Linked DNA regions of Homo sapiens. The protein of the gene in region 2 interacts with the protein of the main gene of each other region in a biochemical or structural test. Each region holds a gene or a part of one and is shown on either strand. Other genes may lie near its edges.

The links.
Region 1: the proteins of STK4 (region 2) and SAV1 form a complex in vitro, tested with the Homo sapiens proteins (one study listed by IntAct).
Region 3: the proteins of STK4 (region 2) and THAP12 form a complex in vitro, tested with the Homo sapiens proteins (one study listed by BioGRID).
Region 4: of the proteins of STK4 (region 2) and SGMS1, one has a biochemical effect on the other in vitro, tested with the Homo sapiens proteins (one study listed by BioGRID).

What each region holds. Positions count from the first base shown.
Region 1 is NC_000014.9:50,665,289-50,673,033, forward strand, and holds the start of SAV1 (protein salvador homolog 1), read right to left. Parts: upstream 3,019-7,745; 5' UTR 2,680-3,018; coding exon 2,586-2,679; intron 2,213-2,585; exon of another isoform or gene 2,094-2,212; intron 332-2,093; coding exon 1-331. UniProt on the Homo sapiens protein: Regulator of STK3/MST2 and STK4/MST1 in the Hippo signaling pathway which plays a pivotal role in organ size control and tumor suppression by restricting proliferation and promoting apoptosis.
Region 2 is NC_000020.11:44,969,511-44,976,536, reverse strand, and holds part of STK4 (serine/threonine-protein kinase 4), read right to left. Parts: exon of another isoform or gene 5,932-7,026; intron 4,460-5,931; coding exon 4,379-4,459; exon of another isoform or gene 3,617-4,378; intron 3,255-3,616; exon of another isoform or gene 3,104-3,254; intron 2,438-3,103; exon of another isoform or gene 1,204-2,437; coding exon of another isoform or gene 1,127-1,203; exon of another isoform or gene 1,125-1,126; coding exon of another isoform or gene 1,096-1,124; exon of another isoform or gene 853-1,095; intron 1-852. UniProt on the Homo sapiens protein: Stress-activated, pro-apoptotic kinase which, following caspase-cleavage, enters the nucleus and induces chromatin condensation followed by internucleosomal DNA fragmentation.
Region 3 is NC_000011.10:76,371,128-76,378,153, reverse strand, and holds part of THAP12 (52 kDa repressor of the inhibitor of the protein kinase), read left to right. Parts: intron 1-7,026. UniProt on the Homo sapiens protein: Upstream regulator of interferon-induced serine/threonine protein kinase R (PKR). May block the PKR-inhibitory function of DNAJC3, resulting in restoration of kinase activity and suppression of cell growth.
Region 4 is NC_000010.11:50,613,955-50,620,980, reverse strand, and holds part of SGMS1 (phosphatidylcholine:ceramide cholinephosphotransferase 1), read left to right. Parts: intron 1-7,026. UniProt on the Homo sapiens protein: Major sphingomyelin synthase at the Golgi apparatus.

The DNA.
Region 1 (7,745 bases), on a different chromosome or scaffold from region 2:
CCATCAAAAAAATTGTCTGAATAATAATATCGGGAACCAGAGTCTCCATTTTCAACAGCAAAACTAACTTCCGTTACAAATGACTGAGAAGAACCATACTCTCTAGGGACATCTGCTAGACTTCTGGCAAGATAAGAAGGTGCAGATAATCTGTTGCTTTCTCTTCTCATTATTTCATGAGGTGTTCTTTGAATTGGAGTTCTAAGGAAACTCTGGTTTCTTGAAACTACATCTCCAGAAGTTGAAAAGGCATTAGGGCTTGAATCTGGAAGACAGATATCAGTTCGTCTTGGAATTGTTGGACCATGCCGGATGAATGAAGGCATAAGATCTACAATAAAACAAAGGATAAAATTACCCTTTCATCATTAAGTAACAAAAGTTTTCGAAATTTGTTCATTTATGTCTACCACCCCAAAATCAAAATGTCAGTCAACTTAAGAAAACACAATTTTAAATTTTGGTTTAGGATGGTACTTGGGCATTTTAAATTGAGGAAGATTAATATTTTCCCAATCAAATGAATTTATATAACTTGCATTAATGGACTATGCGTAAAAGCTCAGCTAGAATAAAATGTATTCTGCATACTACCATACATAATATGATAAAATATCAATAATCTTATCTATGAACTACACATTAATGAAATGCTCATGAATTAATGTATAAAAATAGGAAATAATATAACAAATTGATAGTTTCTAGTTAAGTAGTTTATTTTGTTGTTCTCACTTCATTTTAGAAACTGCCAAAAATCCTTCTTGAAGCAAACACAATTTCAAAAATAGAACTTAATGCTACTCCCAAATATGTAAAAGTGGATTCCTTTAAAAATTAAAAAATTAGTAGCTCTTTCTTCTCTTGGAATTACCTAGCACTAGCACAGTAATCAAAAGCTAGAAAGCCAAAAATTTATGTATGAAAATTGAAAATAAAAAGCTCTCATTTCAAAGAAGCACACAAATGTAGAAGTGGCTCAAAAAACCAAGCCTGAAACTATGTAATTATAATTCAAAATAGTAGATAATAGAACAACAGCTTTTAGGATACAGTACTTTTAAACACGAAACTTGAAAACAGCTTAAGACATTCCCAGTTAGAAAGCAAATACCTTTAAAACAAGACAAAAACCTGAATATGCAGACCCTCTTATTATTCATCAAGTAAACAATATTGGAGACACTCATATTAATAAGCTTCAGAAACTAACACTGGACAGAAACAAATATCTGAATAAATAAGGCTCAACACTTGATGTAACGACAACAAAACAAAGTAGATCAAAAGTTATTTGCTTAACTGTGACAAACATTAACAAAACTGCACGTTCTACACATGTACCCCAGAACTTAAAGTATAATAAAAAGTGTGACAAACATAATTCACGATTTCAAGTAATGTCTGATAAACTTTATTTGCAGCAAACAGCAAGCTATCACTTAAAAACAGCCAGAAACCTAACTGCATGTGTGACTGAAAATCAAGTTGTTAAAAAAAAAAAAAAACAACTTAAAAATCAAGTTTCGAGTTACTGATGTACTCAACTGACATATATTTTGTTGAAAGTATTGCAAGTACCACCATAAATCTGGAAGGCTGACAATGTGGTTATGATGGAAAAACATGCTCTCCCATCTGTGTGATCTTGGGCAAATACTAGAAACCTAACTTTCCCAATTACAATATGAGGTAATACTTAAGTCACAAGGTTACTACCAGCTTCCAAGAAGGAAACTTAAGCAAAGGGCCCAGGGCGCAGTAAGAGCACCAAAATACCAGCTCCATGCCTCACAAATGTCCTGAACACACAAGAATTAAAAATTCAAGAGATTCAACTCAAAAATCAAATACTTACATTAAGAAGAAAAGCAGCGGGGGACCGGAGGTGGGGATTGGGAGTGGGATCTACCCTATTAAAAAAAAAAACTTTTCGAGGGGGGGGTTCTCTAATACGATAGAAATTATTTTGAGTTGCCTTCTTGGAATCTCACGAATATAGCCAAATACAAAGGCTTTTGGCTCTCTGCTCTGCTGTGTAAGAGTGATGAGGCTTTGGGTGGCGGCTACAAGAACGACGGTATGCTTTTCACCTTCTCAAGTCTGCATCCGGCAGCAGGACTAAGGAATTCTGCCCCAGAGTTCGCACAACTTGCAGCACAGTCGAGAGACACCCGCAATGTTTGCAAACATGACGCACATCTCGACGCATCTAAAAGAGTAAAAAGTGTCCCTGTCTAATTACTTTTACTCCTATAGCATTAGGTGATAAGCAATTTAAATGTTTCCTACTCTCTCTTCCAGTAATCAAAACCAACAACTCTGCCTGGTGGGGCGAGGAAGTCTGTTATTTTTAGGGGGTGCTCTTGGGGGGGTTAGGCGCGGGGGGGACTAACCCAAGTTTCTTACTCTTATGGGCTTTCAATCAACGAATACCACTTCAGACACAAGAAAATCTCAAAACCAGTATTTCACGCGACCAAGGACGAAGGAGAAGCCCTGGAGACCCGCCGGCGCCCCCGCCAGGGTCCCCGGAGCACCTGGCCGCCTGGGCCAGGTGTGGGCACGCCCCGCCTGACACTCACTCCGAAGCAGAGGCGACGTCTCCTTCTTCACGTACTTCCCCTGCACCTCGGCCGGCTTGGACACTTCGTTTTTGGTTTTCTTTCGGGACAGCATCCTTCTCGACGAGGCCCGAGGCCGCGCTGAACTGCCTCCCTAGGGCTCCGCGCCGGGCGCCGGCCGTCTCCGCCGCCACCTCCGCCGGCGCCGCCGCCTCCTTCCCTCCCGAGCCGCCGCCTCCGCCGCCGCCTGTCCGGAGCCCGGGGTCGCCCGCAGGGACTGCCGCATGTTCAGGGCGCTAAGCGCGCCGGCCGCCGCTCAGTCGCTGGTCAGTTCCTTCCCGGAAGTCGGCCCGCTCTGCGACGCTGCTCGGGGACGCCGTGAGGAAAGCCCAGCGACGCCGGGCCAGGGCCAGGGCCATGGTCCGCCGCGGGCCGCCGAATAACCGCTACCACTACCGCCGCCGCCGCCTACATCCCGTAAACTTTCCCCGCGGCCGCTGGGAATTCTGGGAAGCTCGACGCAGCGCGGGCCGCCGCTGCCCCTCCCCCACCGCGGCTCCAGGCGCGGCTCCGGCGGCGGGACTCGGGTGCCGGCGCTCTAGGCTACCGGGCCGTCCCCGCCGAGCTGCGGCTGTCCTCACTCATCCTCAGCGAGAAGCAGGTCCTGCCGACTGAGAAGATGAAGGACGAAACCTGCCCCGCTGAGTGCGGGAGTTCGTCGCATGCGCATGTCGTGGAACCTACTCTCCACGAGTTTTTATTGTTGTTGCTTTTGTACCCCCTCGGGATCCCTAGCGGAGGCAGTGACTCTCTTTCCCCCCAAGACGTTGTTCCCTGTTTGAAGGTGTTCTTCCTAATGTTTCCTAGGCTGCTGAATTCAGCTCTCTAAAAAATGCGGAATGCTAACCATGACTCCCAGGCAAGTGCTACACCAAAGCATCTATTCTGCTGGAAACGTTCATGCTGATTAACTAGAAATAAGTTGATCCTCTACTGAGTATCAGGGAGTGCGTTTTTCTATAACAGGAAAAAACGGAAGAATGCAAGATGGAATTTCCAGTACCTCTTTTTAAGATACAATTGGTGTTAGCATATTACAATTATTTTATTGCATCATCACTATCATTAGTATGATTAATAGCCACATATTTCCTCCTGACGTTATGTGTTATGATCTTAGAATTTTGAAGACTTTGACCACTGCGAGTCGGGACCGGGAATTTTCTATCTAAAATAATAGACTCTACTTCCTTCTATATAACTTAGCAAGACTGCCAAATGTACAGGATAACATTTGGAAAATAAGATTGGATTCATCCCCTAGTGACCAAATTAATGCTTTAATAATGAGGAATGCTTTCCCTGAGATCTAAAACATCTCACAAGAGATCTAAGACATATATCACAATTAACAAAAGACATGGAATTTTTTACCACGTAAGATTAAGAAGATGGTCAAATGTTTTACCATGAGCAAACAAAGGAGACATTTGATCTAGTGTCTGTCTCCATATGTTCCCTTGGTGCAGATCTCCCACAATTCATTCATTAACCAGGAAATACTCATTACCCACTGCGCTAGTCGTTTGTGATAGAGCAATAAGCAAAACAGACAAAAATCCCTACTGTCATGGGAAAGAGAAAAAAATGACAAAAAATAAGCAAAACATACTATGTTAGATAGTGATAAGTGATGAAGTGAAAATAAGAGAGGACTCACAATTTTTGAGAGGGTAATAGAGGGACCAGAGAAGGCTCATGAGGAGGTGACATTGGAGTTAAGTGACAGAGTGAGGAAATTGGCCATGCAGCTAACTGGAGGAACAATATTCCAGGCAGAAAGAACAGCAAGTGCAAAGTCGCTGCAAGTGGCCATGTTCCTGGCAGATTGGAGGAACAGTAAGAGGGTTTATGTACTGGAAAAGACGGGGAGACGAATGGGGAATGCAGTTAGAGAGTAACAATAGCCACGGCACCTAGGGCTTTGTAGGCCATTGTAAGGAATGTTACTTTGAGCAGAGGAGTGACATGATCTGAGTTAATGTTTTCATAGGACTGCTTTGGATGCTGTGTGGAGAGTAGACAATGGAGCTAAGGGCAAAAGGGAGATCAGTCAGAAGTTATTGCTGGCTTGGACCCAGGCAATAATAGGTGGAGAGGTAAGTGGACATATTTTAGACATATTTTAAAGAAAGCCAACCAAATTTGCTGACATTGAATATGGAGTGTGGGAGTATCAATCACTGCCATGGGTATGAAAATCTTAATAAACAGAATTGGAACTCACTAGAAGCAGAGTGTACTCTGAGAGAAACATTAGAAAAACAGTTACTTGTTCCTGTGGTTCAGAAATAAGGACGAGTCCTAAAGCGTTGATAGTGTGCAGGGAGAAGAAAGAGTGATGAAACTTAAGTGAGAGCACAATGGGGTTTTGTTACACATCAGGGTATGAAGGCGGGAGCTGAAGGAGGAAGGGGGAGCCAAAGAAGTGCCAGGTTTCTGCCTAAGGCTTACCTCAGAGAAGGACAAAAGGATATTAGCATCTTGTTAATAAAGGCAACTCTTCACACCTGGAGTTTTCCCAGAGCCTGAAGTACGGGGACACCTTTCACATGTGCGGAGGAAAGAATCCTAGAATTTTATAGTTGAAAAAGAATTCTGAGATTGCCTAGGCTCACCTCATCAACATCAAAAAGGAACGAGAAAAATTAAGTGTTTTGTCTCAGATTACATTCCTGGTTAATGACAGAATAGCATCAGAACTGGAGTTTTCAATTCCCTTTTTTTCCCCCCTGAGGCAGAGTCTTGCTCTATCCCTCAGGCAGGAGTGCAGTAGCACTATCTCAGCTCACTGCAACTGCTGCCTCTCAGGTTCAAGCGATCCTCCTACCTTGGCCTCCTGACTAGCTAGGATTACAAGCGCCCGCCACCACACCTGGCTATTTTTTGTATTTTTAGTAGAGACTGGATTTCATCATGTTGGCCAGGCTGGTCCCGAACTCCTGGCCTCAAGTGATCTGCCCGCCTCGGCCTCCCAAAGTGCTGCAATTGTAGGCGTGAGCCACCAGGCCAGCCTCAATTTCCGTTTGGGGCTCTTTACTGCTACGGAACATTCAGAATCCCACTAATGTGAGTCCAGACTGTTTCTAACAGTTGTTTTGAAAGCCGTCTGTGTTCCTTAGAGAGTACTCCCTTTTACAATGCTATTTAATTTCTGTGGATTATAGCAGAGAGAAAGCCTTAATTAGGTGCTCTATTTAAGACAACTAATTTGCCTTTTTATCAAGGAGGGTACATTCCAGAATCAACAATGTGCAGGCAGCATTAGCTATAGCAATGCACAACAAATATGTGAACTTTGAATTTGAATCCTTAAATCTAAAAGCTTTGAATTCATGTTTGTTTTCTAGAAATTCCTTGACTTCTGAGAATTTTTATTAAGGAATTCAGATTTGCTGTAGTTCTACGGAGCTGTAATTCTCCAGACATTGCCTTCAATAATGCTAATACTGCATTCCATAATAGAGATTTTTTTTTTCCCCTTACAGTTACATTCTTAGTGGAGAAAACTGGCAATTAGGGAGCTTCTCATGTTTTAACAACTTTTTTAAAAAATTAATTTAGTATTAAAATTTATTTTAGTGGAGCCTATAAGGTATGACCCTGGGCTAACCTCATAGCATTCTGAGTTCTTAGTTGTCTCATCTGAAAATGAAGAAAGTGAACCATTTGTTTTTTTTTTTTTTTTTTTTTTGAGACAAAGTCTTGCTCTGTCGCCCAGGCTGGAGTGCAGTGGCATGATCTCGGCTCACTGCAAGCTCCGCTTCCCGGGTTCAGGCCATTCTCCTGCCTCAGCCTCCCTAGTAGCTGGGACTACAGGCGCCTGCCACCACACTCGGCTGATTTTTTGTAGTTTTAGTGGAGACGGGGTTTCACCGTGTTAGCCAGGATGGTCTCGATCTCCTGACCTCGTGATCCACCCACCTTGGCCTCCCAAAGTGCTGGGATTACCGGCGTGAGCCACTGTGCCCGGCCAAACCCTTTGATTTCTAAAGTGTCTTTCAGTCCTGGAGTTTTCTGCCATGTAGGCAGAAGGGAATATGCAAAAATAAAAACTTACCTTCATAGGATAAGAGAAATGTTGGTGATTTTCTTTCTTTAAAAAGTTTGTTCTTTATTCAAGTATTAAAGAAAATATTAAAATATCAGCATTATATAAAATCATGATTAGCATAAAAATAAAATTTCGTGCCAGATTGTTACTTTCAAAGACAGCTAAGGTCTTTATGCTATGTTGACTTCCTCGTTGGAAGCATGTAAAATTTTAAAGGGTGAACTATTCAGTGAAAGATTATCCAAGAAAGACAACCAAAATGGAAATAAGCCCTACATATGGCGCCTCAGAAAAAAAAAAAAAAAAAGGAAAAAAGGAGAGGAACTTCTAGTCTACTCTCCAGCTCACTCTTCTTCTTCACATAACAAGATAAACTTAATCTGTCTCAGGAAGATGTAATAATTATGCCAATTATAGCTCTTCAAGTCTCCAAAATTTTGCTATTAAAATATGGGAGGGGGCTGGGCGAGATGGCCTGCGTCTATAATCCCAGCACTTTGGGAGGCCAAGGCGGGTGGATCACCTGAGGTCAGGAGTTTGAGACCAGCCTGGCCAACATGGTGAAACCCCATCTCTACTAAAAATACAAAAATTACCGGGGTGTGGTGATGTGTGCCTGTAATCCCAGCTACTCTGGAGGCTGAGGCAGGAGAATCGCTTGAACTAGGGAGGCAGAGGTTGCAGTGGGCTGAGATCGCACCACTGCACTCCAGCCTGAGCAACAGAGTGAGACTCTGTCTCAAAAAAATAAAAAATAAAATATGGGAGGGTAAATTCCTAAGTGTCCTTTAGGCAGAAACTTTGGTTGTTTCCTATGAAGGATAAGGGTGTGTAATGTCTACACAGATCTGAAGATATTATATAATTGCTTAATATTAGCAATTTAGTAGGGTTCCTAAACTCCTGTTATGTAAGATGAATCATCCCCCCAGTAACATAAAGAATTAGTATCACAATTCTTTTTTTTTTTTTTTTTTTGAGACGGAGTCTCGCTCTTTCGCCCAGGCTGGAGTGCAGTGGCGCGATCTCGGTTTACTGCAAGCTCCGCCTTCCGGGTTCACGCCATT
Region 2 (7,026 bases):
TTTATCAGATTATCATTTTCCATGGGTAATCTCCCCATAGTTTTTAAGGTTTCCTTTGTCCTTAACAGTCTACTATTCTACTGTAATGTAACTAGGAGTTGATCTGGCACTTCATAAACTTCTTCAATCTGAGGGCTCGTGTCTTTCCTCAAGAATGAAAAACTCTCAGGATTATTATGTGATTATTTCCTCTACCACTTCTAGGATCTTCTTTTAGAATTCCTACCAAAACTGTATTAGACCTCCTCAATCTATGTTGTCTTCCTGGTTTCCAACACTGTATTTCTGCATGTTGTGATCAGTCTCATTTCTATCTTTCAATTCACAAATTCTCCTTTCAGTTTGTCTAGTTTACTGTTTATCCAATTTATTGGGCTTTTAAAACTTCAATTGTTGTAGTTTTCATTGTCAAGATTCCCAACTTTTTATCTGCCTTTGGGCAAATATGTTAATAATCATGTCAATAATCTGATGTCCTTTTAAAAATGTTATCTCCTCCTTGATCTTTTTGAAAATTGTAATTATATTAAATTGTTTTTGAGATTGCTTCATTATTTCTTTTTCCTTCAGTGTGAATTCTCCCATTCTGCTGATTATCTCATGGCAGTAGATTTCCTTGCATGGATTTCATTTTCTCTTGAATGATTTTCCTCTATACCACACTCACTGTCGATGATTTCATGGTTTTCTCAGTACAGTAGTCTGGGATATACAACTTAAACCAGGTCTTATATTCAGAGTTTGGGGTTTTTGCCCTTCAAGATACCATACTTAAATACAATCCAAGCTCAGTTCCTATTATCGAACCAGTATATCCATTTTTTCCCTAGGCCACAGGCAAATGACACTTTCTGGTTGTGGTCAGGCAAATTTATTTCAGCTTTAGTTCACAGATGGAGAGCCGAGTTCCAGCCCCCAACTTCATGCAGGAAGCTCAAATGCAATCTCCTGACAAGGATAAGGCATGCTTTAGTCTCCGCTGATTATTTAGATTTCTTTCCTATCCCTTGTCCATAGCTGTCTATATATCCTTATATTTAAAATAATTTTCACTCATTATTCTTATATATTAGAAAGTTCTCTTCATACACTCACTCAGCAATCTTGACCAGAACACTCTTCATACCTCCCTATGCATCCTGATAGCAAGGAAAACTCCAATAGCTCACATGAAGTTAAGATTCCTGATTCCATATACTGCATCTACAGTAATCTGAAGGCAGGGATAGGGGGTGGTTAGAAGATTTCAGCAATCATACTCACAAGCAAGTCCCTTAAAACTTGATTCCCTACAACAAAATGAGATGATTCAATGAATTACAACTGACAGCAGAGAATGGAGAAGTAGGTGTTTTACATAAGCCATGCAAGGCAAGGATCTATGTAGAAAAATGGAAATACCACAGTATCTGAGGCCAAATTAATCAGATACAAGTCTTAACAATAGCACTCATTTTTTATGAAACCATGGGCAAGATGCTTTTGTTATCATTCTATGATAAAAATTCAAATGAGTCAATGTGTACAACTTTAAGTAGAAGAAAAAAGGTGCTAGGCTCCACTTGAAAACACTTCCCAAGTGCTCTCCACTCATCCTGGTCTGGAGCTTTGGCTCTACTCTGCCACAGATCCATATGATCCTCATAACACAGAATGATTGCAGCCTCCAGAATCCAACAGTTTTTTTAGCCATAGCTCATTTCACAAGATACAAGTCAGTGAGAGTTCACAAACCATTCATCCTCCCGAACAATTTAAGAATAGCATTGGCCAGGCGTGGTGGCTCACATCTGTAATTCCAGCAATTTGGGAGGCTGAGGCAGGCAGATCACAAGATCACGAGATCAAGACCATCCTGGCCAATATGGTGAAACCCCATCTCTACTAAAATACAAAAAATAAGTCGGGCGTGGTGGTGTGTGCCTATAGTCCCAGCTACTCAGGAGGCTGAGGCAGGGGAATCGCTTGAACCTGGGAGGCGGAGGTTGCAGTGAGCCGAGATTGTGACATTGCACTCCAGCCTGGTGACAGAGCAAGACTTAATCTCAAAAAAAAAGAATAGCATTGTGTCACATGTTTGGAAAAGAAGTGCAGTGAAGGTCTTCCTTCAAAATATTCCTAGTTAAATGAGGCTTGCTTAGGTTCATTCAGTCAGAATAACAGAAATCCAAGAAATACCAGAAATCTGGTATTATTTAGAAGAACAATAAGGTGATAGTATGGGAAGAAAGATCTGAAGCTTTGTTTTCTCCCTGGTGATATCTTCATAGGGAAATTTCCACATTCCTTGCAGAAGACATCCATAGATCTAAAACGCAATTTGTCCAGGTGCAGTGGTTCACGTCTCTAATCCTAGCACTTTGGGAGGCTGAGGCAGGAGGATCACTTAAGGCCAAGAGTTCAAGACCAGCCTGGGCAACACAGTGAGACCTCGTCTCTACAAAAATAAATAAACAAACAAATAAATAAAATACAATTTAAAAAATCATAATTAGCTTATTTTTTGTTTACATTATATTTCTGATATATTCTCTGTCTATAGTCTTCCTTTGACATTCCACAAACCCAATCAGCTCAGAGCTACCTATAACAACACCTAAAAATACTTTAAGACTTGACATGATGAGGTCTTGAAAATGCTTCAGTTGATACATTTAAAATAGAATAGCAATAGTTGCCACTTACTGAACATTTATTATTGTGATAAGCACTATACTTTACCCCAATTACCTCAGGTAATAACACAACTCTATGAATTGATATATTATTATCCCAACTTTACAGATGAGGATTGTGAGCCTCCAAAATAGTAAGCAATTTGCTTAAGCCCACTTGTCTATTATGACCAGTAAACAGTAGAGCAAGGATTTTAACCCAGGTCAGCCTCACATTGTAGTAGTAAGAGCAAACTGTATTAGAAATGAGAGAAATAAGTTACATAGTCAATTATGCCTATCAGTCTTGAACTTATTCTAAGTATAACTTATGAGCATTGTTAGATTAAAGGTCACAGCCTTGCTGCCTTAGGGAAAATAGCAAGGATGGCAAGCTAAAGCTGAAAATGGCAGGCAACAGATGTAGAGGGACTGTCATTTCCCCATACCTTTAATGATGCCAGTCAACTGGCAGTCTTCAGATTCATCTTGGACTTGTCTTTTCACAGCACAGCTGGTGTGTCATTTTTACTTCCCTTCTCTGCTTGATTTCTTGCTGGATTCCAAAGAGTATTTTTCCAACTTACAAAAAGACGATGACTCATGTTTTTTACAAGGAGGTAAATCATAAAAAAACCATTTCATGTAATCCAGGATTGGGTTTAACGTTGTAAATCTGTCTCCTAACATAAAAAATACTAAACCCAAAAAATAATCTAATGACATAAAGGAAATTATTTTAAAGAGCATATAGTCATCAGTCAGTAGTTGTTTTTACAAGTTAGTATGTCAGGTCTTCCCTTGATCCAGAAATACTCCCAAGGGATTAAAAATACAGACACACACACACACAAACACGAGTGTGCGCTCGCACACACATAGCCTGTCTCTGAAAGACACACAAGAAGCCGCTACCCTTGGTGATTCTGGGTGGCTAAGAGACAGAGAGAGGTAGGAGGCAGTTTTTTTTTTTTTTTATTGTATGCGTCTTAATATTTTTTTAAATTTTGAATCATATGATTGTATCGCCTATTCAAAAATTAACAAGAAAAACTTAAGAAATGGTGTCATTAACATTTTAATTTCCTGGTCATTACAGAAGAAGGAATAAATACACAGGATTGAATTAAAATGATATATAAAAGTATAAAAATTATGTAAACTTAATTGTATCATGAAAGTCAATGATGGTCACTGCACATTACTAATATCATTTCATCAGTATTTTATAAACGCATTAACAAATCTGTGTTTCAGGAAATCCACTGGCTCCCAACCCAGGATTGTGGATCTCCTAAGTAGCTGTGAAGGTGGTGATAGTGCTTAATTTATTTACTATATTTCACAAAGGTGCAAATATTAAAATACTAAATTACATTGATTTTCATTGAAACAGTTATTGCATACCAATCAGAAATTATGAACAGCAAATTAAAAAGTTTCTTATAGAATTTTAATCTAATTAGTGCTATCTGTTAAGTAGATAAAATCATACAGATCCTACAAAAGAGAAAACAATAGATATTCTTCGTGTTAAAAAGACCAGGAATCACTAAATCTGTCTATAATAGGGATTGGAGTAAAGCGAAGAAGGACATCACAAGCTGTAAATTTACCTTCCACCCCACCTAGAACAATGCTGAAAGGTTCATATCCTTCTGCTTCTTCTGGGGCAGGAAAAAGACTGGGACCCAATGACCTACCTATAGTTTCTTTACACTCACCCTTCTCCAAGTTTCTCTAAGACATCAAATACTTCTTCTGGTTGTTTGGTTAAACTATCTTCATCCAACTTTTTCAGCTGCCTGTGAATAAAGAAATATAAACACAAAATACATTTTATTTGCTAGGAACTAGAACATAAAATATATCTTTTTTTTATAATTAGCATCTCAGGAACTTCTCTATACAGACTTCACTAGTTAAGACTGTTTTAAGAAACAAGGTTTCTTGGGAGGCCGATACAGGCAGATCACGAGATCAGGAGATCGAGACCATCCTGGCTAACATGGTGAAACCCCGTCTCCACTAAAAATACAAAAAAATTAGCTGGGCGTGGTAACGCATGCCTGTAATCCCAGCTACTCAGGACGCTGAAGCATAAGAATGGCGTGAACCCAGGAGGCAGAGTTTGCAGTGAACCGAAATTGCGCCACTACGCTCAAGCTTGGGTGACAGAGAGAGACTGTCTCAAAAAAAAAAAAAAAAAAAAAAAAAGTCATGTGGCTGAAATGCTGTAGATTCAAGCATTCGATGTATCCTTCAAAATCTATTTAAATCTTGAGATTTCATGAATTAAAATGATGTAATTATCTCTTCAGAAAAGGTGTTTAATGTAAGGTAACTATGAATTGAAACATAACTATGAATTGGACTGCAGACTAAGGAAGACACGGGAAACCTTTGCTCTTCCATTAGCAAGTTTTTTGTAAGTTTGTCAAAACACATAAATTCTGTAGGTATCACAGAAACAGAAAGTGGAAAGTGTACATTTAGATATGATCAAAAGTGAAAAATCACTAGGCAGCTGTGAGTTTCAGATATTCTCACAAAGACCTTCCTATGAGTAGATACATACCTTTGACTAGTCCCAAAAATCAAAGGTACTTGGCTGCTCACAATTTCCAGATAATTCAGATTTCTGACTATGCTAGACAATCATAACAAACATGGGAGGTTATAAATTAACATTTTTTTAAAACTCTGAGATCTCTGAAAATTACTAATGAGCTTAAAGAAGGAACTTGCCAAGGAATATGTGTGTGTGTGTGTGTGTGTGTGTGTGTGTGTGTGTGTGTGTAGTCTACACAATGGCTTCCTGAAACTACAAAGAACAACAAAGAATAGAGAGCTGAGGAAACGGTGAAATATGGAAGTAGTCACACTGGAGACCTCTTTGTAGAAAAAAAAAGGTTTAGACTAGCTGGATAATATCAATTATTACAACAAAAGACTTAAATACACACACATACACACACACACACACACACACAAATGTGTACCTTCCTAAATAAAACAGATTAAAATTAGAAGACAAAAAATAAAACAAACCAACAAAAACCCTGACCACATCAAGTGTATCTACCAATAAACACTGATCTCAGAAGGACAATCTTATAGTTTATGAATATCAAGGACTATAAACTAGAGAAATGGAGAACTGCTCCAAGTCAAAACTGCCTTAACTTGATATCAACAGAACAAAATGATCACAGTGACCTTTGAAAATCAAAAGGTCCTAAAAATTAAATACCAATGACATCATAAAAACTCCTACCTTCAAAATGAAAAGGGATGAAGTGAAACTCCTCTTAAACTTCAGAACTGAAACTTCTATAAACTCAGAAGTCAGAACGAACATCTCATATGCCAGGGTTTTTTTGGTAAAGTCCTGAATTGTAATTGTATAAACATTGGACAATACCTCACTTCTCAAGTATAATCAAAGTTGTATAAACAGCTTATACAAAGGAAGATCAAGTATGTTTCTTTGAAGTGTTGACTCTCTGTGGTTTACAAAATGCAAAAGTCACTATTTCAACTACTTCAGGGACCACAGCATAACAAAGGAAATTGCCACTGCCTTGAGATAGACAGCTGCAAACCTCTGATAATACTTTGACAAACTTTTTTTTTCTTTTTTTTTAATTATTATTATACTTTAAGTTTTAGGGTACATGTGCACAATGTGCAGGTTAGTTACATATGTATACATGTGCCATGCTGGTGTGCTGCACCCATTAACTCGTCATTTAGCATATGACGGCTCGAATACATCTTTGAAACAATCTAAGTGCTTTTTTGTTTGTTTTTGATCCGGGGCTATTAAAAACAACTTGAACTTAAGGCGCTATTACATCTCTGGTGCCTGATAACCAAGAGGTGGTCAAAATATATTTGTGAAATGGATTCACAAATGTAATGATGGGAATCACGAATTTCATCAGCAATCTTTGAATTATCACAATAAAACAGAATTTCACCTAAGAAGTATTACTGAATTATCAACATTTCTATAAAAATATTTTGATAAGTGATTCATAATAATATTTTATACCATGACTCTTCACAGAAAAAACACTATTACCAAAACAGCCTGACTCTGATAATACAGTTCTCTTATCTGGGACTTCCCCAGGTTCCAGACGGTTTCAGCACTTGCTCATAAATGAACAAGCCTGATCAACAGAGCATCCATGGACCAAATACTGGTGGATGCTCCTCTCCTAAGTCAGATGGCCATGTGGATGGCCAGCATCCCAGGAATGCACTCTACGCCTTCCACTATAACATTAATCTAATGGCAACTCATTTTTTAAAATTATTAACTCCTATATGAGACACCAATCTGTCATCACTTAATCACACACAC
Region 3 (7,026 bases), on a different chromosome or scaffold from region 2:
AGCCACCGTGCTTGGCTGGCACCACATTCTTAGATATGACACCAAAATACATGCAGTAAAAAGAAAAATAGACTAATTGGACTTCATCAAAATTAAACTTTTGTGTATCAAAGAACATTACCAAGAAAGTGAAAAGAATGGAAGAAGGTACTTGCAAATAATACATTTGATCTGGGTCCAGTATCCAGAATATATAAAGAACTCTTACAATTCAGCAACAAAAAGACAACCCAATTTTAAAATAGGCAAAGGACTTCTTTCTTTAAACAGAAGATATAAATGGCTAAAAAGCACATGAAAAGATGCTGAGCATCACTCGTTATTAGAGAAGTTCAAATCAAAACCACAAGTGGCAGTTAGATGTAGAATTACTGTGTGTCCCAGCAATTCCATTCCTAGGCGTATATCCAAAGAATTGCAAACTGATATTCAAAAAAACCAAATGTACACACATTCATAGCAGCACTATTCGCAATAGTCAAAAGGTAGAAACAAGCCACGTTTATCAGTGCTTGAATGGATAAACAAAATGTATATCAATACAATGAAATATTAGCCATGAAAAGGAATGAAGTGCCAGTACATACTACAGTATGGGTGAACCTCAGAAACATTATGCTAAGTGAAAGAAGTCAGATACAAAAGCTTATATGTTGTATGATTCTATTATATTAAATATCCAGAATAAGTAAATCCATAGAGATAGAAAGCATATCAGTGGTTGCCTGGGGCTGGGCGAAAGGGAGAGTGGGGAGCAACTGATTAATGGTTACAAGGTTTCCTTTTGAGGTGATGAAAATGTTTTAGAATTAGGTAGTGGTGATGGTTGCAGAACATGATGAATGTGTTAATTGCCATTAGTTTTTTACTTTAAAATGGTTAGTTTTATGTTATGAGAATTTCACCTCAAAGAAAATAGATGTCTTGAAGAGAGAATAGGATATACAAGTCTGAAATTCAGAGACTTTCAAACCGGAAATTGTAAATATGGGTGTTCTCAGTTTATAGAGGGTATTTAAAACCGTGGTACGGGTTAAGGTTATCTAAGGAGTGAGCAAAGAACAGATCTGAGGATTGAGTCCTGGGGCATTCCCAGTGTTTTAAGTTCCGAGACATGGGAAAGAACTCGCTCAGTACAGTGAGGAGTAGCAGTTGGGAACAGAGGAGAGGAGCATCTTAGTCTGACTTGGCCTTGCCCCATTATGCGTTATCTTCCTTTTACCCAAATTTTAGCCCAAAGACATTCTTACAGGTTTATTTCACTTCCATAATGAGGGCACCCCTAGTCAGTTCTGGACCACAGGTCATTTGTATTAATATGTAGTGAATCCTGTTTTGACTACACTCCTTAAGGGGAGTATAGTCTATAGGGGTTTACAGTTTCAGATTTGAAAGAAGTGTTTAGATCTAGTGAAATCTCACTTGAAATACTGGAATTTTCTCAATAATAGTGACTTTTATCATTTTTAGGGTTATTATCCCTTTTGAGAATCTAGCATAAGGACTCTTACCTGAAAAAAAAAAAAAAACAAAAAAAACATAGACACAATTTAGCATTCGAAGACAAAGATGTTTATGGGCCTTTATAGGCCCTGTGCATTCCTGACAGATGGGCATCTTTGCCCTTGCTAAAACACCTCTAATGATAGTCCTCCCCTTTGTGAGAAGACACGTGATGATTCTGGACGCTTTGGCTGTTGTTTCTTCCTTGTATTGAGTGGACATCTGCCTCCTGTAATTGAGGCCTTGGAGGTCCTAGTTTTGTTCCCAGGATCACACGAAGTCTCTGCCCTTTTCAACGTTAGACTCCTTTGAATGCTTCAAGACCAAATCATGAATTTCTTTTTAAAAAGATGTTTATTGAGATGCAATTCACATATAATTCACCCATGTAAAGTGTACGATTTGGGGTATATACATTAATTTTTAAAATTTTGGTAAAATACAACAGAATTTGCTAATTTAACCTTTAAGTGTGCAATTCAGTGGCGTTAATTACATTCACAGTGTTGTGCAACCTTCTCCACTATTTTCAAAACTTTTTCATTTATCCCAAACAAAAACTGTAACCATTAGGCAATAACCTCCCATTCCCCTGCCCTTCCAGCCTTTGGTAACCTCGAATCCACTTTCGGTCTTTATAAATTTGCCTGTTCTAGATTCCTCATATTGGTGGAATCATACAATATTTCTCCTTTTATGTCTGGCTTGTTTAACTTAATATGTTCAAGGTCTTTTTATCCAAATCAAACCTCCTCGTACTACATGATTTTAAGTTCTACTGTATTTGATAGTTTCCATTTCACTGTGCCCAGTGTTATTTATAACAAAGAAGTAGTTTCCAGAGGTGTTATTGAATTAATAACAGTATTTTTAGGGTTATTAGTTCTAACCCACCCCCCCCCCACCTTTTCTTCTATAAACAGGTTGTAGGGAAGGTTGATAAAAGGTGACATTGCCAGTCTAGTCTTCAAATGCTAACATTGTTAACAAACAATAAAGATGAATATATTTAATGCTATTAAAACAGTACATTTCCCAGTCATCAGTTATAAATTCCATGCATGCTTTTAGAAACAGCTATTTAGAAATAATTTAAACTTCAAGAGTGTAATTAATAAAGTGTATGGTGTGGAATCACATACCATAATAGTTCTTATTGTTTTAGAAAACGTGGCATTAATATGCTTCTTTTTTAAAAAAGTGAAATAATCAACCCAGCTTAGGTCAGTGACACGGTTTAAGTAAAAAAAAAAAAAAAAAGCCTAAGTCTTGATTGCCCCAGGGTGGCTTGCCTAATGCCAAGGCTTGCCACTGTGAGGCAGCTCACAGTGGAGCTCTTCCTAAACCAGGAGATGGTACAGGTAGAGCTAATGAATTGCTCTGATTAGAGTGAGATGGGCGTTGAAGCTCTCTTCTTCCTCCTCAGGCAGCTAGTACTAACTCACCCAAGATGGGTGAGGGCTTCCAAGGTTCTTCTGGCAATTTAATGAAGGCTGATTGAGAGCTGGTGTGCTCTACTTTGTGAAATGTAAAACAGTGGTTTTCTGGGGACTCGTGAGGGTGCCTGTTTGGGCTGTTATAACAAAATACCTTAGACTAGGTGATTTTTAAACAACAGAAATTTATTTCTCATAGTTCTGGAAGCTGGGAAGTCCAAGATAAAGTCACCAGCAGATTTGGCATCTGGTGAGGGCTCACTCTTGGCTTCTTAGATGGTGCCTTCTTGTTGTGTTCTCACATGGCGGAAGGGGCAAATAAGGCTTCCCCGTCATGACCTAAGTCATCTCCCAGATGCCCCACCTCCCAACACCACTGCACTGGGGATTGTTTCAATATGAATTTTGAGGGGATGCAGACATTCAGACCATAGCAATCCCCAAGATCCTTTCAGGGAGTCCACAATGTCAGAACTATTTTCATAATAACACTGATATTATTTGCATTTTTCATATTTGGTCTCTCAGGAGTGGACAGTGGAATTTTTGGGTTGCTACATAACATGATGGCATCATTGCTTTGATAAATTTTGTGTTGTGTTTTCTAGAATTTTCTAAATATTATTCAGATCTGAGTGTTCAGTAGACATTTTCTCAGAAATAAACAAGCCTGCCACTTCAAGGAGAACAACTGATAATTTGAGCATTCAAGTTGAAAATTAGAATTTTGGAAAATTTATGTGCCACTGTGAGCTTGACAGCTCTCTAATACTTAAAGACTTTTCTGGTGAGATCACTGATGATACTGATGTGTTTTTTTTTTTTTTTGTATAATGAATTGCATTAACATTTATATGGTATGTATAACTCACTGAACTAATATTTTCCAAATGACCAATTTATGGTTTTACAGAGACATACATGGATAAAAGTGCAAGATAGACTATGGGATTTTTTATGTACTAGGGCATGAAAAAGCTCATTGGTCTGGTCTCAGATGTCACATTTCAACTAATCTTGAAGAAACTACCACTTGTGGAGAATTCACAATTATATGGAAAAAAGAGGAGTATTGTAATAACCTTTTTAACTGCATATCGTTATGAGGCTAGATTTTCTTCATATATTTCAACCAAAACAACATATAGCAATAGATTAAATACAGAAGCAGATGTGAGAATCTAGCTGTCTTCTGTTAAGCTGGACGTTAAAGAGATTTGCAAAAATGAAGAAGTGTCATTTTTCTCACTAAATATTTTTGTTTTGGAAAATGCAATTTTTTATTAAAACGTTATTTGTGTTAACATAAGGTTGGTATTTTAATGAATTAATAAATATTTTTAAAATTTTTCTGATAAATGTTGTTAGGTAAAATCCACATAAAAGATCTTTGGAGTCCTCAATAATGTAATAGTGCAAAGGAATCCTGGGACTATGAAGTTTGAGAATTGCTGCTCTAAAATGTGAGCAGCAAATTTCAAACTTTTTTTTTTTTTGAGGGGTCTTACTCTGTCACTCAGGCTGGAGTGCAGTGGCAGGAGCATGGCTCACTGCAGCCTCAACCACCTGGGCTCAAGCAATCTTCCAGCCTCAGCCACCCAAATACCTGGGACTATAGGTGCCCATCACAACCCCCGGCTAATTTTTGAAAAAAATTTTTTTTAGAGACAGGGTCTCACCATGTTGCCCAGGCTGGTCTTGGACTCCTGAGCTGAAGCATTCCCCCCTTGTTCAGCCTCCCAAAGTCTTAGGATTGCAGATGTGAGACACCACGCCCAGCCTGAAGTACTTTCATATCAACTCATTTAATCTTCCAAACAATGGGGTGAGTTGTAATAATAGTACTTCTTTTTCCTTTTTTTTTTTTTTTTGAGACAGTGTCTCACTGTCACCCAGGCTAAAGTGCAATGACACGATCTCCAGTCATTGCAACCTCTGCCTCCTGCGCTCAAGTAATTCTCCTGCCTTATCCTCCCAAGTAGCTGGGACTGCAGGTACATACCACCATGCCTGGCTAATTTTTATATTTTTTGTAGAGACAGGGTTTCGCCATGTTGCCCAGGCTGGAACAGTACTTACGTAGTGTATTCTTTGTGACAGGCACTGCTCTGTTATATACTTCTCTGTTATATATACATTATTTCATGTTACCCTTGCAGTAAATTTTGAGGTAGTCCTTGCTTTACAGATGACCAAAGTAGGTACAGAGAGGTTAGCTAACTTTTTTAAAGGCCCTGCAGAAATGTCTAAAACCTTAAGAGCAGGTAGGACAGGATAAAATAGGTATTACCCGAACTTTTTTGACCGTGGAACCCTGTTTTTTTTTTGGAGACAGGTTCTTATTCTGTCACCCAGGCTGGAGTGCAGGAGCACAATCATTGCTCACTGCAGTCTCCATCTCCCAGGCTCAAACAATCCTCCCATCTCTGCCTCCCAAGTAGCTGGGGACCATAGGCGCACGCCACCACACTTGACTAATTTTTTAATTTTTTATAGAGACAAGGTCTCCCTATATTGTCCAGGCTGGTCTTGAACTCCTAGCCTCAAGTGATCCTCTTGCCTTGGCCTCTCAAAGTGCTGGTATTATGAGCCACCATGCCCGGTCCCTTTTTTTTTTTTTTTTTTAAATGTAACAGTTCTGACTGGGCATAGTCACTCAGGCCTGTAATCCCAGCACTTTGAGAGGCTGAGGCAGGAGGATGGCTTAAACCCAGGAGTTTGAACTTAGAATGAGCTATGATTGCACCAGTGTGCTACAGCCTGGGCGACAGATTGAGGCCCTGTCTCTCTCTCTCTTTTTTTTTTTTAGAAGCAATTCTTTGAACAGGATTCCTTGGAATACACTTTTAGAAATGCTGCATTAGTAAGAAACCAATGAGGGAAAAACATCAAAAACAAAACAAAGAAGTAATCAGTGATGGTTGACTAGTGCTGAAGGTGTTTAAGGTGTGTACAGAAAGTGGCTGCACGCAGTGGCTCACGCCTGTAATCCCAGCACTTTGTGAGGTTTAGGCGGGAGGATCGCTTGAGCCCGGGAGTTTGAGACCCACCTGGGCAACATAATGACACCTCTTCTCATTACTTTAAAAATGAAATAAAAGATAGGCCAGGCACGATGGCTCACGCCTGTAATCCCAGCACTTTGGGAGGCCGAGGCGGGTGGATCACCTGGTCAGGGGTTCGAGACCAGCCTGGCCAACATAGCGAAACCCCATCTCTACTAAAAGTACAAAAATTAACCGGGCATGGTGGGGGGTGCCTGTAATCCCAGCTACTCAGGAGGCTGAGGCAGTAGAGTAGCTTGAACCCAGGAGGCAGAGGTTGCAGGGAGCCAAGATTGTGCCACTGCACTCCAGCCTGAGCGACAAGAGCAAGACTCCACCAAAAAAAAAAAAAAAAAAAAAGAAAAGTTAAAAATGAAATAAAATCTGTACAGGAAAGTGACCGTTGGATTTGGCAGGATAGGGTCGTTAGTAATTTTCTTGAGCAGTTTCAGTGGAAAAGGGATAGAGTAGGAGCCTCCTTGGCATTGATTAAGGAGACAGTACAACAAGATAAGTGGATGCAGTCCAAATGGATGCTTTAACAAGTTTTGCTATAAAGAGGATCAGGATTAAGAGAGTTTTAAAGATGGGAGACATTAGGGCATGTTTACACTGTGGGAATAATATAGTAAGATAAATGTAGGGAGTTGAGATATTATACATGGAGAGGTGGAAAGTCTTAAATGCCTGGAGTTTTCTGTGTGCATACATATTCATACACATACACCCACATATATGTACACATGTGAGTCAGGAAAACTTTCCCTCAAGAAATGACATTTGCGCTAAGATCTGAAGGCTGAGTCATAGTTAACTGTGCATAGGAAGTGTATAAAAAGCAGCAAGAAGAGTGTAGTAGGCTGAGTAAACAGCGCAGGGAAGGCCCCAGGATAGAAGTGAACACAGTTGTTTATCCTGAGAGTAATGAGAAGCCACTAAAAGCTTAAGCATGGGAGAGACATTCTCAAATTGGCTTTAAAAAATGCTCTGCAGCACGGAGAAGGGGTTAGAGAAGGGCAGATGACCAGTTTGGAAGAGATACT
Region 4 (7,026 bases), on a different chromosome or scaffold from region 2:
AACTCCTGGGCTCAAGTAATCCTCTCACCTTGGCCTCTCAAAGTGCTGCGATTACAGGTGTGAGTCACTGCACCTAGCAGTATTATTATTATTATTTTTAACTAAAAAGTGCTCCTGTTGGATGTCAAATGCTTTAACTTAGAAAACTTCATTTTATACATAACATTTCAGGAAAACTCTGAAAAGTGCTGCTATAGAAAAGCTGAAAGAGTATTTTGGGAATAAAAATTCTGGATTGTTTGCACACAGGCATCAATGCCCTGGTCTTTAGGAGGGAGGCATGAGTGTGCTGCCAGTTCATTCTGCTCTTTACCATCACTGTCTGTTCCTTCCTCCAATTGTTTAGGTATTTCTTCTTCTCCTAAAGATGTACTTTCTTGGCATGAGCTTGCTTTTTAAAGCAATCCTGTCAGAAGAATCTGTTGCATTTTCTCACACAAATTTGATCAATGGTGATTTTTATTTTTTGATTGCCATATACACTTTCCCACCACTTCATATGGCAAACTATTCAGTGGCTCTTGTGTCCTTGTGGGGGCATAACATGTTATAGATGGCTATGCCTTTTTTGGATGGTAGCTATAGCCATAACAGTCTCTTCTGGAGGAACTTTTATGACATGCTGGTCTTCAAGATTTTTGGCTTTCCTATTAAAGGCTTTTGGTCAGGAATATAAATGGCTATTTCTCCTCTCTAAGAGCATCCCTGTAAAGGTTGTTACCTCCATTAAGCTACCCAGTCACAAGAGGACCTTATTTTGGATCAGCCCACTTGGATGTGGGAGTTGGGAGGCAGCATTGGATGTCAGGGAGGAGAGAGTGAAGAAAGGGAAAGAGAAGGGTGGGCGGAGCCCCAGGAAGGTAGCTTGGTTTTATAACTGACTTCTGGATTCAGTAAAGCTGCATTGAATGGTGCTGATGAATAAGTTTGGCTCAGGCCCTGCTGGAATGCTTTGCTGTTCTCCCAGTCCTCCATCTCCACAGATAAACACATCACACACAGATCCACAGACACAGAGACTCACACAGACAGCGAAGAGAAAGACACAGAGAAAGAGACACACACACTCTGCCAAAAGCCAAGAGCACCAGTGTCTTTTTAAACTAATATGTCAAAGGGAAAATCCAGGACTCAGTAGCAGGTTTGATTTTGGGGGCCTGAAATCACCCCAAGCTTGTATTGAGAAAGATTCCCCTCCACTCTCAGTGACAAGCTGATCTACTCCCTTAATGATGTAAAGCCACAAGGGCTTTAACTGAAGCAACCATTATACGTACAGACAGGTGAGTGGAGATTTAGATAATTTGGGTGATTTACCTTTTAGACTCCTGGTGCTGAGAGCTGAGCTCACATTCCAGTTCTTGGCACAGGATCCTCTCACTGTGCAAAAGCCCCTTGCTTGTTTTACGTTTTTCTCCTTCATTCCCCTCCCAGCACCCCCCAGGCCCCTCTCCCCCAGAGGAGCCTTCTTTCCAGTGCAGGATATGTTCTTGCATATGTATGTATTTTGTTAAAGATGTTGAGTTACTTTGTTTGTTTTTGATTTACATAAGTGGTTCTGTGCTATAGATTTCATTCTTTTTTTATTCAACATTAGAGCTTTTTATTATGGAAATTTGCAGGCATTCATAAAAGTCAGAAGAACCTTAACATTTTATTTGTGAGATCCTTGTTAGTGCAGGTTTATCTAGTGCGTTGCCTTGACTGCTGCTTTGTAGGGCTGGTCTTTTATGTGTCTCCTACTTTTACTTACCCATTTCCCTAATGATGGATGCTTAACTCACCTCCACTCCTGCTACCACTAGCAAACATCCTGTATGCATTTTCTTTCTTTTTTTTCTTTTTTTTGAGACAGAGTCTCGGTCTGTCGCCCAGGCAGGTGTGCAGTGGCATGATCTTGGCTCACTGCAGCCTCTGCCTCTTAGGCTCAAGAGACTCTCCTACCTCAGCCTCCTGAGTAGCTGGGTCTGTGTGCATTTTCTTAATGATCTGGTTGAGAATATCCCTAGGGTAGTGGTTCTTAAAGTATGGTCCACACCTGGCAGCATCGGCATCAACTCTGAACTGTTAGAAATACAGATTCTTGGGTCCTAACATTCCAGAATTCCTGAATCAGAAACCCTGAACTGTGTTTCAGCATGCCCAGGTTGGAGATTCTGATACATGGGAAAGTTTGAGAACCGCTGCTCTAAGGGTATGTACTTAGGAGTGGGATGGCTGAGTAATGGTGTACAAACATACCTGTTTTTACTAAACACTGCTAAATTACTCTCCAGAGTTGCTCAGCTGCTTTCTGTTCCACATCAGTGCACAAGGGTTCCTGATTCCCCACGTTCTTACTCAAATTTGTTATTAACCAACTTTCTAGTTTTACCAATGTTTGGTGGCTGTAAAGTGGGATCTCATTGGGTTTTCTTTTTGTGAACTTATATGATTTCTTAGTAAATTTGAACTCTTTTAATATATTCATTAGTGATTATAATTTCTTTGACTAGCCATACTTGCTTTTCCTAATGTGGTGATTTGAAGATTTTTTTGGTATATTCTAGATGTTAATCTCATCCTGTCTTCTGTTTATCAACTTTGTCAATGGTAACTTTGAGAAATTTTTAGTTTTGATATAGCCCCAGTCCATTAATTTTTGCCTTAGGTTGCACTTTAAGAGTATAAGATATTTTTCCTTACCCCAAGATTACAAAGATATTCTGTATTCTGTCAGCTTTCCAGTTTTACCTTTCACATTGAGGGCTTTATTCTATTTGAAGTTCATCTTCATATATGGGAAAACAAAGGAATCTCACATTATTTTTTTCCTTTCCATTCTGTGAGACAGTTTTCCTAAATCATCTATTAAACAGTGTATTCTTTCCTTCATATAGTTTTGTGGAGCCACTTTTATCATACCTCAGATTCCCACAGACACATATTAGTTTACTTTTTCAACTTTATTAAGAGTTATTAAGGCTGAGCGTGGTGGCTCAATGCCTGTAATGCCAGCACTTTGGGAGACTGAGGTGGGAGGATTGTTTGAGTCCAGGAGTTCAAGACCAGCCTGGGCAACATGGAGAGACCCTGTCTCTACAAAAAAAAAAAAAAAAATTAAGCCAGGGCCAGGTGCAGTGGCTCACACCTGTAATCCCAGCATTTTGGGAGGCTGAAGCAGGTGGATTGCTTGAGCCCAGGAATTCAAGAACAGAGAACAGCCTGGTCAAAACCCTGTCTGAACAAAAAATACAAAAATTAGCCTGGCTAATTGGTATAGTCCTAGCTACTCGGGAGACTGAGGTGGGAGGATTGCTTGAGCTCAGGAGGCGGAGTTTGCAGTGAGCCCAGATTGCACCACTGCACTCCATCCTGGGTGACAGAGTGAGACCCTGTCTCATAAATAAATAAATACATAAATAAAAATAAGAGTTGTAACTTATATAGGTAAACTAAATCCATTCAAAGTGTACAGCTTGATTACTTTTGACAGATGTACATACCTGTGAAACCATCACAGTGAAGATACAGAGCATTTCCATCACCCCAAAATTGCCCTTGGGCCCCTTTGTAATCCCTTTGTCCCCAGACTTAAGCAACCACTGATATGCTGTCACTGTAGTTTAGTTTGTGTTTTCTAGAATTTTATGTAAATGGACCATACAGTATAGTACCATTTTGTGTCTGGTTCCTTTCATTCAACATACTGATTTTTAAAAATCTTTTTAAATTATGATAAAATACACATAACATAAAATTTATCATTTAACCATTTTAAGTGTATAATTCAGTGGCATCAAGTACATTTACATTGTTGTCACCACTATGCATTTCCAGAACATTTTTTATCACCCCAAACTGAAACTGTCCCCATTACTTGCGACATACTGATACCAATCATCTGTCTGTTTTTATGCCCCCCCAATTTTTTTTATTATAGCATTGCAGTGTGTTTTATATGGCAGAATGAGCCCCTACTTTTCTTTATACTTTGACTTGGTTATTTGTGGATGTTTATACTTCCATATGCATTTTGGAATGCTTATTAAGTTCTCAACAAAGTTAGGAAAGTGTGATGGGCATTGCATTGAATATATAATATGATTTTTCTGTCTAATATTGTAAGATTTTCTGTCTTATTGTAATTCTGTCCGTGAACATGGTCATCATTTCATCTTTTTAAAAATGACTTTTTAATAGAGTTTCAAATTTTCTCTGTCATGATAACATTTTTTATAAAGGTTGCTTTGAGGATAATTTGAATCTTGGCACCTTAGTCTCCACATTAGAGGGAGGCTAATAGGTGTTTTGGGACAGATCTTTTAAAATCTTCCTTCATTTATCAGCCTGTAATGACATTGGTGAAATTACTCACCCCTGGTAGGCCCTGGTTCCTCTTTCCTCAAACTGGAATAACAACACCCCCCGCCGCTTAGGGAGGCTGCTGAAGGGTTTAAAAGATATTGTAGGAGATGCTTGGAATACAGATCTTGAAACAGAGTTGTTGCTTAGGTTATGTTGGTGGAATACCTCCCCTAATGCTGGTTTTAAATAGCATAAACTGTCTGGGTATGGTAGTTCACACCTGTAATCCCAACACTTTGGGAGGCCGAGGTGGGAGGATCACTTGAGCCCAGAAGTTTGAGGCCAGTCTGGGCAACACGGTGAGTCCCTGTCTCTACTAAATAAATAAATAAATAAATACATAAAATTAGCCAGTTGTGGTGGTGTGCACCTGTAGTCCCAGCTACTTGGGGCGGGGGGGCTGATGTGGGAGGCTTGTTCGAGCCTGGAGGTTGAGCCTGTGATGAGCTGTGACCATGCCACTGTACTCCAGCCTGAATGACAGAGCAAGACCCTGTTTCAAAAAATAAATAAAATAAATCTCATAAACTTAATACTTTTGTCTGTTTTTAAGGGTTGATAATAAAGAAGAGTCAGAAAAGCAAAGTGAATTAGCTAGCCAATAAATGTGTAACACTCTCTAAGACTACATTTGCAAGCCCATGTTTCTGCCTAGTTTTGTTGGGTTTCACAAAAAATATGGGTACTTCCAAAGAATTTTACAGTCGACTGGGGAAGAAAAGGCTAATGTGCAAGAAACAATTAGAGAACTCTATGTGACAGATGGTATATAATTAGAGGTGAAGTGGTGCAGTGCCAGGGGAGTTATGAGAGGAGAGAGATTCTGCTCTGTGAAGTTTTGATTTGGCTTGGGTGGAACTAGTTTAGGGAGGGGAGAAGGCGCTGGAGAAACCAAGTAGAATTATCATTTCTGTTGGGAGCCTTGAGGGCCCAGCATTGAATCCCATGACAGTGGATATTGTGCCCAAACATAAGTATCTCAAAATCAGTGCTGTGGGATTGGTGATAAATAGTTAGAAGATGCCTAGATAAGCAATAGCTCTCTGTCTTATAGTACAGTGGTGAAGAGCCCTGACCCTGGACCCTGGGTTTGGATCTCAGCCTCATCGTGTAGAAGCTGTGGGACCTTAGGCAGGTTATGCAAACCTTCTGCACCTCAGTTTCCCCAACTCTCTGGTAGGTGTCATAACAGCAGCCATCTTACAGGGTTATTGTGGGGACTATATTAACATTTATAAGGTACTGAATGCCTGGCATGGTAACCACAACATAAATGTTAGCTGTTATTATGACAACTTTTGTTAATATTCATCACCTTCCTCCTGTACCTCTCTTGAGGTGTGTGAGGCTTTATGCCCCAGAATTGGATGGCTTTTGTCCGGAAAGACCTGGTTGGAGGCTGTACAAATTTATAGAATGGCTTTTTCCACATGTCGGCAGGCATTCAGTGGGCGCTCAGGTTGCAGACTGAACAAGTAAATACTGAAAGACAGTGGAGCCAGGTGCATTCTCTGTCATTCCTGGATGTCCTCACTCAGGGCTCTGGAATTGAGTGGGGAGAAAAAGTCAGGTGGTAAGCATTCAGGAAGCGAATTTTATTTTGCTATATTCCTAGTTCTGATTAGACCTTTTGGCAGAGATGTCGGAATCACAGGGATTCACACTTGTTGATGGCTAACTGCATGCCAGCCACTTTCTAAGTCCTTGACCCAATGAAATGGATATTGTCATCATACCTTTTTTGAGGACAAAGAGAGTGGGACAGAAGTAATTTGCCCAAGAAAGTAGGAAAAAGAATGCCCTGGAGTTTAGTGTTTGGGGCCTTTGCCAGGTGGCAGAAATAACAGAAGTAGGTACTGTTGGTGGAGAGCCAGTACCTTTACATAAAGCGTTGTAATACACAGGTTAGCCCAGCAGGGCATTCCCATGACCTCAGATGTTTATCAGGTGAAGCCAGTGGCTCTCAGATTTCAGCGTGTATCAGAATCACTCGAAGGCTGCTTACAACGCCCAGGGCTGGGACCCACCTCTGCCAGAGTTTCTGAGGCAAAGAGCTTGGGGCAGGTGGCAGTGGGCAGTTGACATGTCTAATGTGTTCCTGGATACTGTCATGCTGCTGGTCTGGGGACCACTCTTTGCCAACCACTGCCATCAGCAGTGCCCATGTCAGCGAGGAGCCAGCTGCTACTACTTCTAGTTACAGTCAGGTGGGATGATTTCAGATTTAGACATTGGAAGTGCCTTCCGCCTCATGAAATAAAAACTGAACTCATGTGGTCCTGTTTATCTAGGACAGCAGAGGGGTGTCTGAGCCAGTCCAGAGCAGAAACTTGCTTTTCCTGCTCACCAGTGGTTCTGGCATGGCTCAGGAGAGATGATCCCAAGGTGGAGAGAAAACTTGGAAATATAAGTCAGCACTCATTAGAAGCTTGGAGTGCCATCATTACATCCCATCTTAGGAAGATGGCCTCATTTATTTTTGTTATTTTTCATTCCCCCTTCCATTGGCAAAAAAAAAAAAAGAAAGACTTCCTGTTCACCACTTATCCCCATGGAGGAATTTAGGCACAGACAAATTAAAAGTATATTGAGATACATAACCTGACAGTGGAGAGGCAGAAGATAATCTTATTTGCCTAGTTTAATTATAGCAGAAAACTGTGTTTGTAGGAAAAAAGA